Linked DNA regions of Homo sapiens: region 1 is linked to region 2. Evidence: fine-mapped expression QTL. Tissue or cell type: unexposed skin. Region 2 holds a variant in brackets; the other region holds the start of a gene. All regions are shown on one strand. Distances are between the middles of the regions.

Region 1 (8,100 bases), 24 kb after region 2:
ACCACCTGATTCACTGGTCTGCGCAGGAATGAGGGACGCTCTATGGAGTGGTAGTGAGTGAACAGTCAGGGTGTCTGCACGGCTACTTACTCTGCAGGCTACCTGTTCCCATAATGTCAAAATTCCCTGTGCCTACCCAGTACCATGACTTCAGCTGCCGCACTCTCCCGTTCTCCCGCCATGTTGGAGGCTACGCACACATACATGCCTGCATCGCTCTTGAGTGTATGTGACATCATCAGCTTCCCTCCACGGATCTGCAGAGCAATAATGGTAACTTTGGTCCATTTCAGCTATCACAGCGTATATATATATGGTGAATATATGTGTATATACATATGTATAAAGTTTATTTGATCCTCACAGCAAGCTGATAAAGGAGACCAAGGAAGTTGACCCACATATCAAATGGGAAGTTCCTGGGGCATCATGCCCCCGCCCCTTTTTTATACCAATTCCGTCTTCCTTATCCCTCACTGTATAGCTGACTCTTAGTCTCTGGTTAGCTAATGCCCTGATCTCAATCTCCAGCCTTGTCACCTCCCTACCCTATGTCCCCTCCCTTGTTGGGGTCTCCAATCATAATCCCGCCCTCACCGTGATCCTTCCTTCCTCTTCCTTGAGTCTTGCACCGTCCTTCCTCCAGGACACGGAAGGCTCCGGGTGGCCGCGGGGGGGCACGCATTCCAGTACTGCTGGCTCCCCCACTGCCACCACCACGTTTCCAGGAGACTGCCGGAAATCATCACGGAGGACTGGGCGGGGCGGTGGGGGGCGAAATAAGCAGGGTGTAGAGTGACATAACTGGCTGAGGACACAGGGAAAGTGTTGTCTTGGGAAGGGGTTGATCGCTGCAGACTGGAATTCGTTCCCAGGTGAGAAAATATCAGCCTGGAGTCAGATCCACTTCCTTCTCTGGCCGTGGTGTGGCCATTAGAGATCAAAGGTCGCGGTCCCAAAGAAGGATGCTGAGTGGGCTGAAGTCCTTTGGGGCTGGTTCTGGGTCTGATTGCCCAGTGCCCTCCCGCCTACCCCAGGCTCTGGAAGCAACCAGCTGACGGTCAACTGACTCTCACCTGCCACTTCCAGCGAGGCGTTTCTGCTCGCTGCTGCCCCCAGGTAGTTGCGAGCCACGCAAGTGTAGACACCTTCGTCCGGCCGCGCGCGGCGCCCGTGCACGATGCGCGGGAAGAAGAGGGCGCCGCTGGGCAGCAGCAGGCGGTGCGCACGCGGATCCTCCCGCACAGTGGCCACACGCGCCCCGTTCTTGTACCACTCAATGTTGGGTCGGGGTCGGCCTTCAGCGCGGCAGGGCAACGTGGCGGGCTCGCCTCGGGAGACCAGCAGATCTGGCGGCTGCTCCACGATGCGGGGCATAGCGTCCTCCGGTCCTACCCTTGACCCTGGGGACAGGGGGTGGCGCAGAGCGTTCAGACAGGGAAATTGTGGGGAGAGATTGAGGCTCCAGAGGGAAAGAGAATCCTCTGGTCGTTCCATCTCCTATGCTTCTCTGCGGAGCTCAGTCCCCACCTGCCTACCCTCTCCCTCTGCAGGATCCAATATGTCCTTATTGGCAGACGTTCCGCGTTCCTCGTCTCAAAGGAAGATGCCTACAGACAGGCCGGTTAGTAGAGGGATCGGGACACAAACTTCTAGGCCGGCTTTCTGGACCACCTAGAGACCTCCGTCTCCTCTCCTGCCAAGTTTAAGCGGGAGTGGCTGAACCACGCTTGGCGAGTAGACCGCTCCCTCGCCTCCTGCCCAGTGGTTTCCATCTCCACCTGCACTGGTTCACGGATCGTCCTTGCTCAGTGAAAGACCATAAACCGTGCACTGGAGCCAACAGTTTGTTCTTGACTTCTGCAAGGTCCTGGCTCAGTGAAATTGGGAATGTGGACTGGCTTGGGATCCCTTATGAAAGGCAAGACGGGAGTGACAGGGCCGGGCCTAGAAGGGCTTGTCAACCTGGATTCTATGAATCGGCACAGGGCCCTTCTTACTGACACCCCGGATAATCACGCTTCATTTCAAGGGTCCTGTGAAGTCACAGGAATTGAACGCAAATAGCAGTAGAAATGTTAGTAAGGCTCCTTTTCCTGACAGGTGCATAGTTTCCAATAGATTATTCTACTGATTGATGTTCCTCTACTTCCCCTGTTCACTCCGATCAGTTCATCCACATATTCTGTCCTACCTGTCACTTGGCCTGCAGACTTTGGCCTGTTTCACCTTCTGCAGCACGGTTAGGATCCCGGAGCCTGTTATACTCCGGCACTCTCAGCCCCTAGTCCAGCCAACAAAAGTGGATTTGTAACCCGTGGCGGCCAGTAGGTGCCACTGCAGCCTTTAATAACCTGCTGTAAAATAACCAGGGACCACTTCAAGCATCTGTTCTGCCCCCTGCCCCCTCCCCCTGTTCCCCCCTTCCTACCCTGTTCCAAAATCTGCAGGAACCTCCCGCTTCCAGCCCGCCTGTGAGATTGGGTTTCATTTCCTGCCCCCCCTCTTAGAAGTTCTGTTGTAGACAAAGCTGGACAGGCTGACCCGTGCTGGCGCTGTTCTGAGTTTATTTTAATTGCCTGGAGTCAAGAAGATCGATTTCTGTCCCACTTGGGAGAGTAATTTTCTCCATCTCCTCCCTTCCAAATGGAAATCTCTGCTTTTCACCCTTCTCTTCTCCTCCATCTCCTCCCATTCCCAATTTTGGAACACCCCGTGGTGAGCAACACTGGAGTGATTGAGAGCAAGTGTTGCTGTTGAACCAACCAGGGCTGGAATCTCAGACTTTGACGCTTCCTAGCTGTAAGAACTTGGGCAAATTATTTAACTTCTCTCAGTCTCAGTTTCTTTCTTTGTGATGTGAGAGCAGTGATAGGGTTGCTCTAAGACCATAATGTATGTAAAGCCCTTGGGGGATAAACGTCACTACTCTGCCATTATTTAAGGGCTTGTGTTCCCAGCATATGCACCTTATCTTGGCTCCTACAGTCTCTACCTGAATCAAATTCTACCAGGCCCCAATATTCTTTTTTCCCCTTGGTATAGCCCTCAGGTGTAATGGAAATGGACTGATCTGTTATCGCTAGGTTTTGCTTCATGCTGCTTTTGTGACGATTAGGGCACCATTCACTCTATAAAGCGTTTTCTCGGCGGCAAAATGTGTCTGTCAACACCTTCCTTGCATACCTCACTAAGTTTCGAGCTTAGATGAGACAAAGTATGGTGAAAACACTCTGTAAACGCGCTAGGTGAGCAGAAGCGGGACTCTGCGGGGTGCCAGCGAGAAGGGATCTGTGCTTAACCTCCTGGAAATCTAGGAGGGTCAAGAGGTTGGAGAATCGGGCTCCTCCCCCATCGTCTTTCTCCCCAATCCTTCTATACGGACCACACCCTTCTGGTCGGCCTTTTCCCCCTAATTCCTGTAGACACAGCTGCAGGCGCCCTTTCCCTGGAATTTCCCCCTCTACCCTTCCCGGTCTCAGGAGATGCTTCGACTGCAGCCTAATGAATAGCTAATGGCCATGCTAATGAGGCTCTGGGGCTCCTCCCTCAGCACCTGATGTGCCCCACACATGAACACACACATATTGCCAGGGTCTCCTTTCTCTCCACCTTCGAGTCCCCAGCACAGTGCTCGTCACTAGACTCGAGTGGGTCGAGGCAGAGGGATGGGGACCGCGTGCACCTGGAGGGAACCACACGCGAAAGCGCCCGGTAAAGCGGGGGTTCCCGATGCGGCAGGCAGGGGGCGCGCTCCGGCCTCTCCGCAGGCTGGCGGCGGCCGGCTCCCGCAGCTTCCCCGCGGCGCTAGGGGAGAGCGCGCTGTCCCAGTCATTTATTAATCACCGTAATTAGCGGTAACGACCTCGCCGCCAGCTCCGCCCGCCCGCCACAGCTCTGCCGGGGTGGGCCGGCTGAGAGTCCCGCCGCTGAAAGACAAACTTCTAAGTTTCCTTAAAATGATCGCCGCCCCTATCCCCTCCGTAGCAAACACATCCAGCATTTTGGCTTCCTCTGGTCCTAAGTGAGTTCTTGGGAAACTTCGGGGTTCCGAAGACCAGCTGCCTGGGTGGGTCACCGAGTGACCTGGCTTGGCCGAGGCCGGCGGGAGACTGTGCCCCCTCCTCTGCCCTCCCTGCGCTGGGCCCGGGCCTTTCTTAGCTCGGACTTCCCTGCCCGTTACCAGCAACGGTTCTTCTCACCTGGGGTGGGCGTTGTAGGGGAAGGGAAGGAGGTGTAAAAAGACTCAGTAGCCATCTTCTCCCAAGCCCTCGACCTCCCGCGGGTACCCCCACTCATGTGCTCGAAGCTCCAAATTATCCCTTAGACCCCACGACCCAGGGAGGCGCTGGGAGGCGCCACTCAATCCCGGACCTCGGGACAGGAGCGCTTCTCCTTCCCTTCCACGCCGCCCTCTCACCTCATCCCCATCCCAGGATCCCATATCCCCAAGAGGCAGGGTCTCACCGTTGAGAGAGGGATCGCCGGGAGGCAGCAGGGTGTGGTTGAGCGCCGCCAGCGAGGAGTTGAAGCCCAAGAGCAGCTCGCTGGAGTTGGAGATGTCCCCGGCCAGAGAGTCCGCGAACAAGTTCATCTGCAGCAGCGTTTTCAGCAGGTAGCGCAGCATGGCTCGACCCAGCTGGGATCGGGACTGGGGGCTGGGGGCCCAGCCCCTGGGTCTGAGACCCGTGGGCTGGGAGCCGTAAGCCCCTCCACAGCCTCTGCGCGCTGCGGCAGCCACGGTGCCGCTCTCCTGCCGGTGCGCCTGGGTACGGTCGGTGCCTCTTCGTGCCCTCCTCCTTCCCTCGTCCTTCTCTCCACCCCCTAGTGCCGGAGTCCCCTGGGAGCTGGGCAGGCGGAAAGCAGGTGCCACGCCGATCACGGCGTAATTAAGGGATTAATCCGCCTCCCTCCACCCTCCCACCCTTACCTCTACAGTCACTATCCGAGCAGGAGACACGAGTAGCGTAGCGCGCGAGTTGGAGTCCCCGCCCCGCACCCCAAGCCCAGCGTTCCGTTCTGGACGCGGCGAGAGATTTTCCCTGTCTCAAAGCACCCAAGATGAGGGACGAGGCTCTGTCGGACTCTGCCCTTCTGCCCAACTTTAGAACAGGAATCTGTCCTCTCTTTTCCCGAACCTTTTGGAAACTGAGGCAAAGCGCAAGCAATGCTCCTTGCTGCCAAAGTTCTGGTTTCCATTCCCTCCCAAGTCTAGGGGTTTGGCGACGGAAGGGCAGGAGACTGGGGTGGTTTGCAGCAAGAGTTGGGAGTAGGCAGAGAATTCCAAGACAGGTCCACCTCTCTGCCCTCTGGTCCTTTGGTCTGCAGCCAGGAGGCCAGAGGATGGAGCGGCGCGCCCTGACCCGGGAGTCCTGCTCCAAACGCCCTAATCTAGGAGTTCCTGTAGGAGACTGAAAGCCAGGGAAACCCAGGCAACTGTCATTTATTTGAATCCTTTTACATTACCCTGCTTTGACATTTTTTATTAAATTGTTTTACGTTTTTGAGGAGACTGAAATGGAACCAAGGATTCTAGGACAAAAACAAAGATAATATTATTTTTGTAAAGGCATGTGGGATTGCTGCAAAATTAGTGCAAATCTGTTCAAATCGGATAGCAGTCGTCCTTCCTGGGGGGGGCGAAAAGAAAACCATGGGCCCCTACTCCCACCTCCCACTTCCAGTCGCGGTCTGCTTCTGACTTTTCTGGAGTTCTTTCTACCTGAAGACCCACCTCGACAAACTCACTTTCCTAGACAGGAGATGGCTTTGGGGTATCAGGGAAAGAGAGAGGCCGGGGCATTCCTAACCTGAGGTAAGGCCCTGCTGATTGAAGAGTCAGTGCCAGAGTTCTGGCTCAGCCGTCAGGTTCTGGGATGAGACAACTTTCATGGGGCGACTGCTTCTGACCCCAAAGGGGTCGAGATCAGAGGGGTGGGTGCTATACAGTCGCAGACTCTGGAGTAAGCAGAATCAAGAATTGAAATATTTCAGGCAGAGCTTGTTCAAGGGAACCCGAGACATTGTCAAGGGGTGGGGGGCTTGTTCCAAGCCTCCTTCCTCAGTCCAGGCGCCTGGCTGTGAGCCTCCAACTATGGGTGTTTAGGTGCCTTCCAACCCTAGCAGTTCTGGGCGGGACGTAGAAAGGCTGGAAGCACTAGGTGTGGGGGAGGGGGTAGGTGGGAGTGGGGGTGGGGCCGGATGGACCCCCCACCCCACCGCCACGCAGCGCCCTGGGAGCTGTCCTTTTCAGCACCTCATCTGCAGGTGCCTGACTAGGGCCCTGGAGCCCCCAGGGAAGACATAAATCCGAGCAGACCCTGAGGCTGAGGACTGGGGTAGGTGGGAGACGGGCTAGAGACACATCCTTTCAAAAGCAAGAAGATAATAAGAGATTTGACGCCCCTCCCTTCCTCGCTCCAGGGTGGTATTCAGATAAGAGAGAAAGTAAGGGATGTATTTCCCACCCGAAATCTATCCTTCAGGAATGACCAACACAGAAGTGGGTTCTAATTCTACGTTTGCCAAGTACAAGACGTCACCGCTTTGGATCTCAGTTTTCCCATCTGTTAAGGAGGAATTGGAGTGCTTGATCTACTCTGACCTGTGAGATTCGAGGCTCCGGGGCCCTTTGCTCCGCCCCCTGCTGACCGCGGTCACCTGGGTTCCATCACAGCAGAGGCTGAATCGGGATAGAAACCCCACGTCCTGGTACCAGGCCCTACTCTGGGGCGGAGGGGGCCAGAAACCCTCCCACCATGCGGCTCCTGCCCGGTCCTAATGCCCTGATTTGCTCCCGGCTGGCCTCTCCGCAAACACAGGGCCTGCCAGCGTCTAGGGGCTTGTCACCCTGTTAGCGGATTTGTTCCCGGAGACGGCGCAGTTAATTGGCCCTTTATGTGGGGATCAGGGCGTATTTGCTCAGGGTTCCCTGAGCGGAGGCGCGGCTCAACCCGTGAGCAAGGCTGCTTCACAGTCCCTGTCACGTGGGTTTGGAGGCTGGACAAATAGCCGGGCCACTCTACTTTCCAGGAATCTGCTGTCTCTCCTACACTTCACCTCGTCTGGGCTCTCTCTAATTTTCACTCTCCACTTTTTCTTGTTTCTCTCTGCTCTTTCCTTCTTTGTACTTCTCTTTATCTTGATGATACTCTCCTTTTAAACCAAACTCAGATCTAAGCCAAGAGGGCTGAGTTCTCCCAACTGGGGATATCAGAGAATAAATACCTCCCAACCATAACCTAAGTTCCCTCCCTTTTCCTTCCCATTCTCTAGTGTCCTTACGGCCCTGGGCTAGGCAGAGTGGAGCAGAGAGTGGGCAGAGAAGGCCCAGCAGAAGTCACACCTCCCAGCTCTTCTGCAGCCCTCTCCCCACCTTCTCTTCTTTACTGAGGGTCAGACAGGCAGCCTAGAAACTGGCCCTGCCCCTGTCCACATCCAGCTTCTCTCCTGGCTACCCCCATAGGCAGTTCTGAAAGGGGTTTGCCTCCTACTAGTCTCCTCACTGCCTGCTCTGCTCTCTGAAAATTACCAAGACAACTCTTTGTCCTTTTTCTGGAGTGGGTATGCAACTCTTTGCAACTATGTCCATTTCCTAATTTGTCAACTGTAAGTGCCTGTACAGCACCTAAAACACTGAGTAGATGCCCTGCAATTGGAGGAGCCTCAGCCGGGGTGCATTCATTCTGTTGACTTATAAATTTCCACCTTGGGCTGGAGAAAGAGTCAGAGTTGGGTTTAGAGACCCTCTCTTCTACCACCTCAGGAAACTACTTCTTTCCCAGAGTTTTACCAACAATATGTACAGTCCAGACTTTAGAAAGGGTAAGAAAAAGAAACAGAGGTTTTGAAGGAGATTTGGCAGAAAGAAGAGAGAGTAGCAGGAAGCAGGGAGGTTGGGGCGAGTTGAATTTGTAGAGTTAGGAGCTAAGTTTGTTCTGATAAGGTTACAGCATCTGATGGGAAGAAGTGTGTGTGTGTGTGTGTGTTTGCGTGTGTGTGCATGTGTGGGTTCACAGGTAGAGCCCTAGAAAAGAGCCCTGGGCCAGGAGTTGATGAGGTAATATAGAAGAGGAATATTTCTTTCCTATGGTGGTATTT
Region 2 (8,100 bases):
CATCACTGCCACCAGCCAACTGGACTGTAGTTGGTGAGCAGACCCAGCTGGAAATCGCCACCCATATGCCAGGCTCCTACTGCGTGCAAGTGGCTGCAGTCACTGGTGCTGGAGCTGGGGAGCCCAGTAGACCTGTCTGCCTCCTTTTAGGTGAGGGCAGTGCCCACAGACCCACCCTACCCTTCAGCCTGCATCCCGCCTTCCTCTCTCCCTGCTCCCGCCTCACACTTCCAGCTCTTCCCCCTTGCCTGCCAGGCCCTCAATGCCTCGACTCCCTCTCCCTCTGAGCTCTGCATCCCATACAGAGCAGGCCATGGAGCGAGCCACCCAAGAACCCAGTGAGCATGGTCCCTGGACCCTGGAGCAGCTGAGGGCTACCTTGAAGCGGCCTGAGGTCATTGCCACCTGCGGTGTTGCACTCTGGCTGCTGCTTCTGGGCACCGCCGTGTGTATCCACCGCCGGCGCCGAGCTAGGGTGCACCTGGGCCCAGGTGAGAGTCTGAGGGGGACCCACATGTATACAGGCCTCCTCAGCATCCAGCCAGAATGGTGCAGGGGCTTTGGATCTCTGACCAGGTGATCCAGCCTCTGGATTTAGCTTTCCTCCTGCCTTCTCCCAGGTCTGTACAGATATACCAGTGAGGATGCCATCCTAAAACACAGGTGAGAGGTGAAAGGGGAGGTCTGAAGTAAGGGAGGGTGGCAAGGGACAGTGGAGCTGCAACAGAGAAGAATGGAGTACTAGTCTACCTGCCAGGGAGTTTGGGACTGTCGTACATGAATCTCTCCTGTAACTCCAACTGATAGTTCATTTCTCTGTCATTAATATTCCTATCACACCACTTGACAGACTAGTAAACTGAAACTCATAAAACCTTCTAAACCCCCAATCCAGGACTCTTGTCACCCCACCTCTCCTGCTGCCTCACCCGCTAGGTGGAGAATAATCAGCATGAGACGACCACCTCAAATGTCTCATCTTATGCGTGCACCCATGGTCTACCAAGTAGTGCCTTTGCACTCAGTAATTCTCTCACTGAGCCATTGTGCCTACATCATAGTCCACCCGCAGCTCCAGCAGAGGGTGTTCAGTGCCTACATCATAGATTCTTCCTCACTGTTCTCAAAAACAGGATCTGCCCATGGGCCCTTCTGCTTCCGGTATATTCGGCTGCCAGAACAAGTCTGCAGTTCTGGGACATCATGCTGATAGAGAACACATCCTTCTTGCTCCCGTTGTCTGAGTTTTGTACTAAGTAACCGCCTCATCTCTCTGTCTGCCTTCTTGGCTCTTTATTTCGCTAGATCTCCTCTGGGAGGCTTCCCACTCCAGGTCTGCATCTATCCACAGAAGTTACTGAGCACCTACTATGTGCCAGCAAATCCAGGCCTAGAGCTGCCATTTCACTGTCAGGTCCTCAGCCCAGAGCAGGGGTCCAAGCTGGCTGGTGTTGTGTTTTGAGTTTTCTGAGCTCACTGGCTTCTTTCTTCCAGCTACCTCCTGGCTTTGTCTGCTCTGCCTTAAGCTTTCTGTGGCTTCCCTAGGATCTCCTGCTCTGTCCTTGAGGGAGATTCCTTCTGATCTTTGGTTCATTCTTTCCTTTGGAATAGCCTCCACCTGCCAGAATCTCTCAGTGTAGGCAGAGACAGGCATGAGGGGATATGAGTGCAATCCTGTATTGGCCACGCAGAAGCAGGTACAAGACACATGGAGGGGGTCAATGTGGAAAAACATAGGAGAAAGAAGATTCCACATTACCCTGACAGTAAGAAGGGGATGGAGAGAAGAGCAATGAAGCAGCAAGTAATAGCCTGCTATGTCCACAGGGAAAGACAAACCATTTGTTCTGGCTCGGGTATAGGGTGTGAGATGGGTCAGAGCAAAGGCTATAGTTAGGGAGCTGGAAGCCAGACCAAGGAAGGTCCTCTTAGCCATGCTAGGTACCTGGGCTCTATCATGGTAAATGAGGGGCCATTGAAGGTCTTACGCAGAGAAGCTCCTTGCTCAGATCCCTGTTCTTGAAGGATCACTCAGGCAGCCAGAGGCCAATATCCATGGAGCAAGCTCCTGCTCTGCCAGCTGAGTGATCTCACATTTCCTCATATAAACCCAGACCATCAGTCTTGAGTGTGGAAGGCCCTATTGCCATCATTTTACAGATGAGAAAACTGGGGCTTAGAGAGGATGTACTTACCCAAGTGCAACAGATGTACTTACCCAAGCTAAGCTGTGACAGATAGAGATTGTCAAACCAGATTTGTCTTCAGGTCTTCTTTTTACCTCAGCATACATAGCTGTCTGTCATTACTACCTCCCAGCTCTGGGTGACTCGGATTTCCCCTCATCCAGGAATAAGAAAGGGGTGCTGGGTTTAGGGGACCAGGTCAGAGATCTTAAGGAGTCTGTGAAAAGCTGAAAAGCAGTAGTAAGGATAAAGCCACCATCTCCTTGCCCTCTTCTGCTGCCTCTGAACAGGAAGTCTTGGCCAAAAAGGTTCTCACTTCTCCCTGTTTCTCCTGGCCTCACCCCCTCCCTCCACTGCCCCAGGATGGATCACAGTGACTCCCAGTGGTTGGCAGACACTTGGCGTTCCACCTCTGGCTCTCGGGACCTGAGCAGCAGCAGCAGCCTCAGCAGTCGGCTGGGGGCGGATGCCCGGGACCCACTAGACTGTCGTCGCTCCTGTGAGCATGCTCAGTGGGGGCAAGGGCCTAGCTGGGGGCAGTGATCTCAGGGATGGAAAGCAGGACATGCTCACCATAATTCCTCCTGTCATTTATGTCACAGTGCTCTCCTGGGACTCCCGAAGCCCCGGCGTGCCCCTGCTTCCAGACACCAGCACTTTTTATGGCTCCCTCATCGCTGAGCTGCCCTCCAGTACCCCAGCCAGGCCAAGTCCCCAGGTCCCAGCTGTCAGGCGCCTCCCACCCCAGCTGGCCCAGCTCTCCAGCCCCTGTTCCAGCTCAGACAGCCTCTGCAGCCGCAGGGGACTCTCTTCTCCCCGCTTGTCTCTGGCCCCTGCAGAGGCTTGGAAGGCCAAAAAGAAGCAGGGTAAGGAGGGGGAGAATAGACATAGACTGAGCTGGTGGTAGGCGGGCCCAGGAATGGGAATGTGATGGGAACAAGGCCTCAAAGCCTGGAGGGGCGTGCAACCTCCACACCCTCCTTCCATTCTCCTCTCCAGGTGGACACAAGACCTCTTTCTCCTACCACCAGAGCACTCAGCTAGGGGTGCAATAGCCTCAGCTTTTTGCACTGTGCTCTTGTTTCAGTTTGGCTACACCAGCAGTGAGCCCTAATTCTGCACTCAATTCAACTCAGCAAACGTTTAATAAGCACCACTGCATGCCAAACATGGGGAACACAAGAGACGTCAGACACAGCCCCTGACTTCTAAGGGCTCAGGGCCTGTCTAACGAAAGTGTTGACTAGCAAACAAGTAATGCTAGAGCCTGGGGGAATGTGACCAGTGCTGGCACAAAGCCTCAGGCTCCCACGAGCTCATCTCCTGGTGTACTATGTACAGGTGTGCTTGGGCACCGACTCCCAACTCACTTCTCAGAGAGGAATGGGTATTTCCTTTCTGGACAGGTTTATCTCCTGACTCCCAGCTGCATTCTTAGACTTTTCAGAGAAAAATAATTATAGCCTCCATTTTTTATCAATTGCTATATACTAGGTGCTTTACTTATGTTTGTTATTTCATTTAATCCTCACAATAGATTGGCTAGCTACTATTTCTCTAATTTTACAGACAGGAAGAGGGTCAGAATGATTGAGTTACTGGTTCAAAATTCTGCAAGTAATTAGCTGCAGGACTCAAATCTGAAGGCAGGATAGTCTGCCTCTGAAGTGATTCTGAGTCTCTCTGGAGCTCCCTCAGGAAATCCTATTCTCTCTTTGAGTATTTTTTCCTATTTCTGGCCTGCAGAACATTGGCCTGCAATCTACCTGCTGTCTTCTTGAGTCTTCTGTACTAATTAGTAAGACCTAACAAATGTTCTACAGCCAAGTCTTTTTTTTAAGTGGATTTAATCCAACTTTTAATAAGACAAAGATGGATTAAGATAATTAACAGCTTGTTCAATATCCAGAATTTTATGACTGTAAATATCAGCGAAGCTGGCATTCTTACCAGCTTTGCCTCAGAGCTATTGCATTATAAATCCTTGGTGGTAACGAAACACCAGCTAAAAAAAAGGTGGAATAGTCTCATTTAAAAAACAGCCTTCCCAGGGAGAACTACACCAACTTTAATGGAATGGATAGCCCCTCTTAGAACAGTAATGCTACTGGAAAGAGGTGAGTGGTTTTCTACAGCCAGTTCTTAAGAAGGGTTCCAATTCTGAGATGAGGCTTCCTAGCCTGTGGTTTAGGTCCTTACTTCACTCCCTGTTTCTCCTCGCTCCAGCCCCATCTCACCACTGCCCCCAGGATAGGTCAACTGCAGCGACTCCTTGGCTGGTAGACACTAGATATTCTACCTCTACCTCCCAGGACCTCAGCAGCAACAAGATCATGCTATGGTCTTCTCCAGACCCATGGAGTTGATTCTACTGCTGTTTCTTCCTCTTCTAAAACTGGCAGGCTCTCCCAGTACC[A/C]CCCACTCCCCTTGACCTGCTTGTTCCTTTTTCTTATTATTTGGCCTTAGTTGGGGTTTCTTCTCCAGTGCTGATATCCTCACAATTACAGTCTCCTGTCTCTCATCCATCATAGCAGGTTCTTAGTTCTGCTCAGTTTGCCAGATATATGCACTGAATATCCTCATTCATTCATTATTTTATTCAAACAAATATTTATTGCAATTTGACCAATGAGTTTCAACCTTTCACCTTGATAACATTTTTCTTGTCCAGTTTATTCAATTAGAATTGAAACTAAAGTCCAAGTAACTCCAAGCAACATAGGAGGAGGGCTTTTGTTACCAGAGTCCCTTAGAGGAAGTGAAACAGGCTAGGATAAAAGTGGCCTTTTCCAGGCCTGGCTGTTTTCTTTCCCTTTCCACTCAAACCAGCCAACCAACTTGTGCTCATATTTCTGAGCTTAGTCAAGAAGCCAGGCACCAGACAAGACATAGCTGATGATAGCAGAGTTGGTGCACCAACCCTGAAGTTGGCTCCCCAGATTACCTGGGTCATATGAAAGCTATAGAAAATCAATAAAAACCAAACAGCCAAAGTACCAAAGGAAACTTTGACGGAGGGAGTCTAGTCATTGATGAGTTTTCATCCTAAAGGATCAGAAGGTCTGGCCACTAGTACATAAATGGGGTCTTGGTCAATGCCAAAGCCTGGCTCACTTCCCTTCTCTGAAGCTGCCCGTAGTGGCCCCCAGATCTCTGATATGTGACTGACTAGATAGCTCTACCCTGAAGGTCCTGCCTGGTCCCTGGTCCACCAAGAGGGGAAACTCTTTCCTAGCTGGGCTTCTGGTCATGGGACACTAATCTAAAGGCTGTTTCTTTTCTCCTTTGTCTGATGTTCTTCAGGTTCCTGCTCCTGGAAAAATCTCTCTCCTGTATTACCCTATTCCTCTCTGGCTTAAACTTAGATCCCTTTTGCATTCTGGTCTGACCAAGAAGCATGCTCACAGGTCATTGCACATAGTTAGGGCTGTCTCTTTAGTTTCCAGCTTCTCTGTTGTGAAAGTTCACTCAGAGCCCTGTCTCTCCACTGCCCATGTGGGCCAGATGACAGCTTCCATCTTCTAGGTGACTCTTCTCACTGTGTGTTTATATCCACATTTCTGATATCACCCATGCATTCACTCTTTCATTCAACAAAAAGTATGGGCAGGGCATTGCGTCCCTGGGATAGACCAATACCTTTTCCCACTCTGAAGTTCCTCTTCCTATTAGCTGACTGTCTCCTGTCACAGCCAACATTGTGTGTCGATCCCTGTTTTTGTCCTACCCACTCAGCTCAACCTGACAGTCTACCCCATCTTTCAAGTGAGAGACAGTCGAGTTTCCCAGAGCAGGGCTATCCAGAGCCATGTGAGATATTTGCAATGTGAGAAATGGAAATTAATAGATTCTGTCCAAGAAAAGAAGGAGTATTTTTCTTACTGAGCCAAAATTCATGAGAGTAGCAATGTGAGGGTATAGAGATCAGGAAGATTGGAATGAATACAGTCAAGGAAAAGAAAGTTGTTTTTTAAAGCATCTATCAAGGCCAAGAACTTGTGCAATCTGTTTTTACTTAATTGTCAAGACCATCATTCGAAGTGGTTGTTTACACATGAAACTGAGACTCAGAAAGGTACATGGACTGCCCTGAAGTCACACAGCTGAGCTGGGCAGGTCTTTTGACCCCAAGCCTAGTGCTCCTTCTACCCTATCACAGCTGCTGGATGAAGATGGGGGTGTGGAGGGGATTCAGGGGGTTCCCCCTCTTTTCTCTGGGTTCAGGGTCGTGCAGGCTGAATTGAATAAGGCTGAAGATAGAGCCAGCAGCTGGGGTCTGAAAAGTCCATCCTGGGCCCCACAACCACCAACCCTTTCTTTGCAGAGCTGCAGCATGCCAACAGTTCCCCACTGCTCCGGGGCAGCCACTCCTTGGAGCTCCGGGCCTGTGAGTTAGGAAATAGAGGTTCCAAGAACCTTTCCCAAAGCCCAGGTGAGAGGGGGTCCCTGAAAGGGAAGTGAAGGGGTGAGATAGGGTGTAGGGATGCAGGGGCTTACCAGCCCAGGGCCCTCCCACGGGCTCATCCTCCTTTCCCTGAGGAGGCTGATGAGGGTTGGATGGAGTAGTGGACAGGTAGCTAAGGGGGCTGGTGGGCAGGCCGGCAGGCTGAGCTCCAGAGCAGATGGGGATGCCACTGTTCTCACACCCAGGCTTCTCTTCCCCAGGAGCTGTGCCCCAAGCTCTGGTTGCCTGGCGGGCCCTGGGACCGAAACTCCTCAGCTCCTCAAATGAGCTGGTTACTCGTCATCTCCCTCCAGCACCCCTCTTTCCTCATGAAACTCCCCCAACTCAGAGTCAACAGACCCAGTAAGAGGGCATGGGGTCGGGAAGCAGGGCTGGGAGAGTGGGGGTGTGGGGAGTGTGTGCCGGGATTGGACAGGCTGGGGAAGGGGGGAAAGGACTTGAAGAGCTGTAGTAACTACGGTGCCATCACTCTCTCCCGCAAATCAGGCCTCCGGTGGCACCACAGGCTCCCTCCTCCATCCTGCTGCCAGCAGCCCCCATCCCCATCCTTAGCCCCTGCAGTCCCCCTAGCCCCCAGGCCTCTTCCCTCTCTGGCCCCAGCCCAGCTTCCAGTCGCCTGTCCAGCTCCTCACTGTCATCCCTGGGGGAGGATCAAGACAGCGTGCTGACCCCTGAGGAGGTAGCCCTGTGCTTGGAACTCAGTGAGGGTGAGGAGACTCCCAGGTGAGTAGCTTGAGAGATAACCAAAGAACTACAGAAAAGCTGTGGGGGCAAGCGCCTCTCCACCCATTCCGCCCTCCCTCAACTGGGGCTTTTCTGTTACTACAACCCTCATTCCACCCAAACCATTGCTGTCTCCCCTTTTGCCTCTCCCTAGGAACAGCGTCTCTCCCATGCCAAGGGCTCCTTCACCCCCCACCACCTATGGGTACATCAGCGTCCCAACAGCCTCAGAGTTCACGGACATGGGCAGGACTGGAGGAGGGGTGGGGCCCAAGGGGGGAGTCTTGCTGTGCCCACCTCGGCCCTGCCTCACCCCCACCCCCAGCGAGGGCTCCTTAGCCAATGGTTGGGGCTCAGCCTCTGAGGACAATGCCGCCAGCGCCAGAGCCAGCCTTGTCAGCTCCTCCGATGGCTCCTTCCTCGCTGATGCTCACTTTGCCCGGGCCCTGGCAGTGGCTGTGGATAGCTTTGGTTTCGGTCTAGAGCCCAGGGAGGCAGACTGCGTCTTCATAGGTATGTGAGGTCTCCCCATCTTACTCCTCACTCATGCCCCTTGCCTTTCTAACAACTGTTATCATGTCATCATTGTTAAAACAACTAGTTTTATTGAATGATTATTGTATCTCAGGCACTATGATAAGTGCTTTGCATACATTTAATATTGAAAGTCTATGTGGAATATTCTTTATCTCTCTTATCCTAATGAGGAAACTGTAAGTCAGATAA

What was found. PIP is the estimated chance that this variant, and not a neighbour inherited with it, causes the effect.
Region 1: ROBO3 starts here. The variant in region 2 is fine-mapped to the expression of ROBO3 in unexposed skin (GTEx, PIP 0.96).

The regions. Positions count from the first base shown.
Region 1 is chr11:124,862,105-124,870,204 of GRCh38, reverse strand. It overlaps ROBO3 (roundabout guidance receptor 3), which reads right to left and starts at 4,773. Exons shown (of 28, transcript NM_022370.4): 1 at 4,468-4,773; 2 at 1,077-1,403; 3 at 598-755; 4 at 137-257; 5 at 1-40. The coding sequence starts at 4,627. RefSeq lists enhancers at 1,201-1,731, 3,781-4,457, 6,797-7,298.
Region 2 is chr11:124,886,251-124,894,350 of GRCh38, reverse strand. It overlaps ROBO4 (roundabout guidance receptor 4), which reads left to right. Exons shown (of 18, transcript NM_019055.6): 8 at 1-150; 9 at 306-491; 10 at 621-663; 11 at 2,549-2,685; 12 at 2,789-3,052; 13 at 6,511-6,618; 14 at 6,852-6,993; 15 at 7,138-7,374; 16 at 7,529-7,887. It overlaps LOC107984406 (a long non-coding RNA gene), which reads right to left and starts at 2,552. Exons shown (of 2, transcript XR_001748429.3): 1 at 2,219-2,552. RefSeq lists enhancers at 7,165-7,678, 7,679-8,100. The variant A/C (reference allele first, on the strand shown) is at 4,603.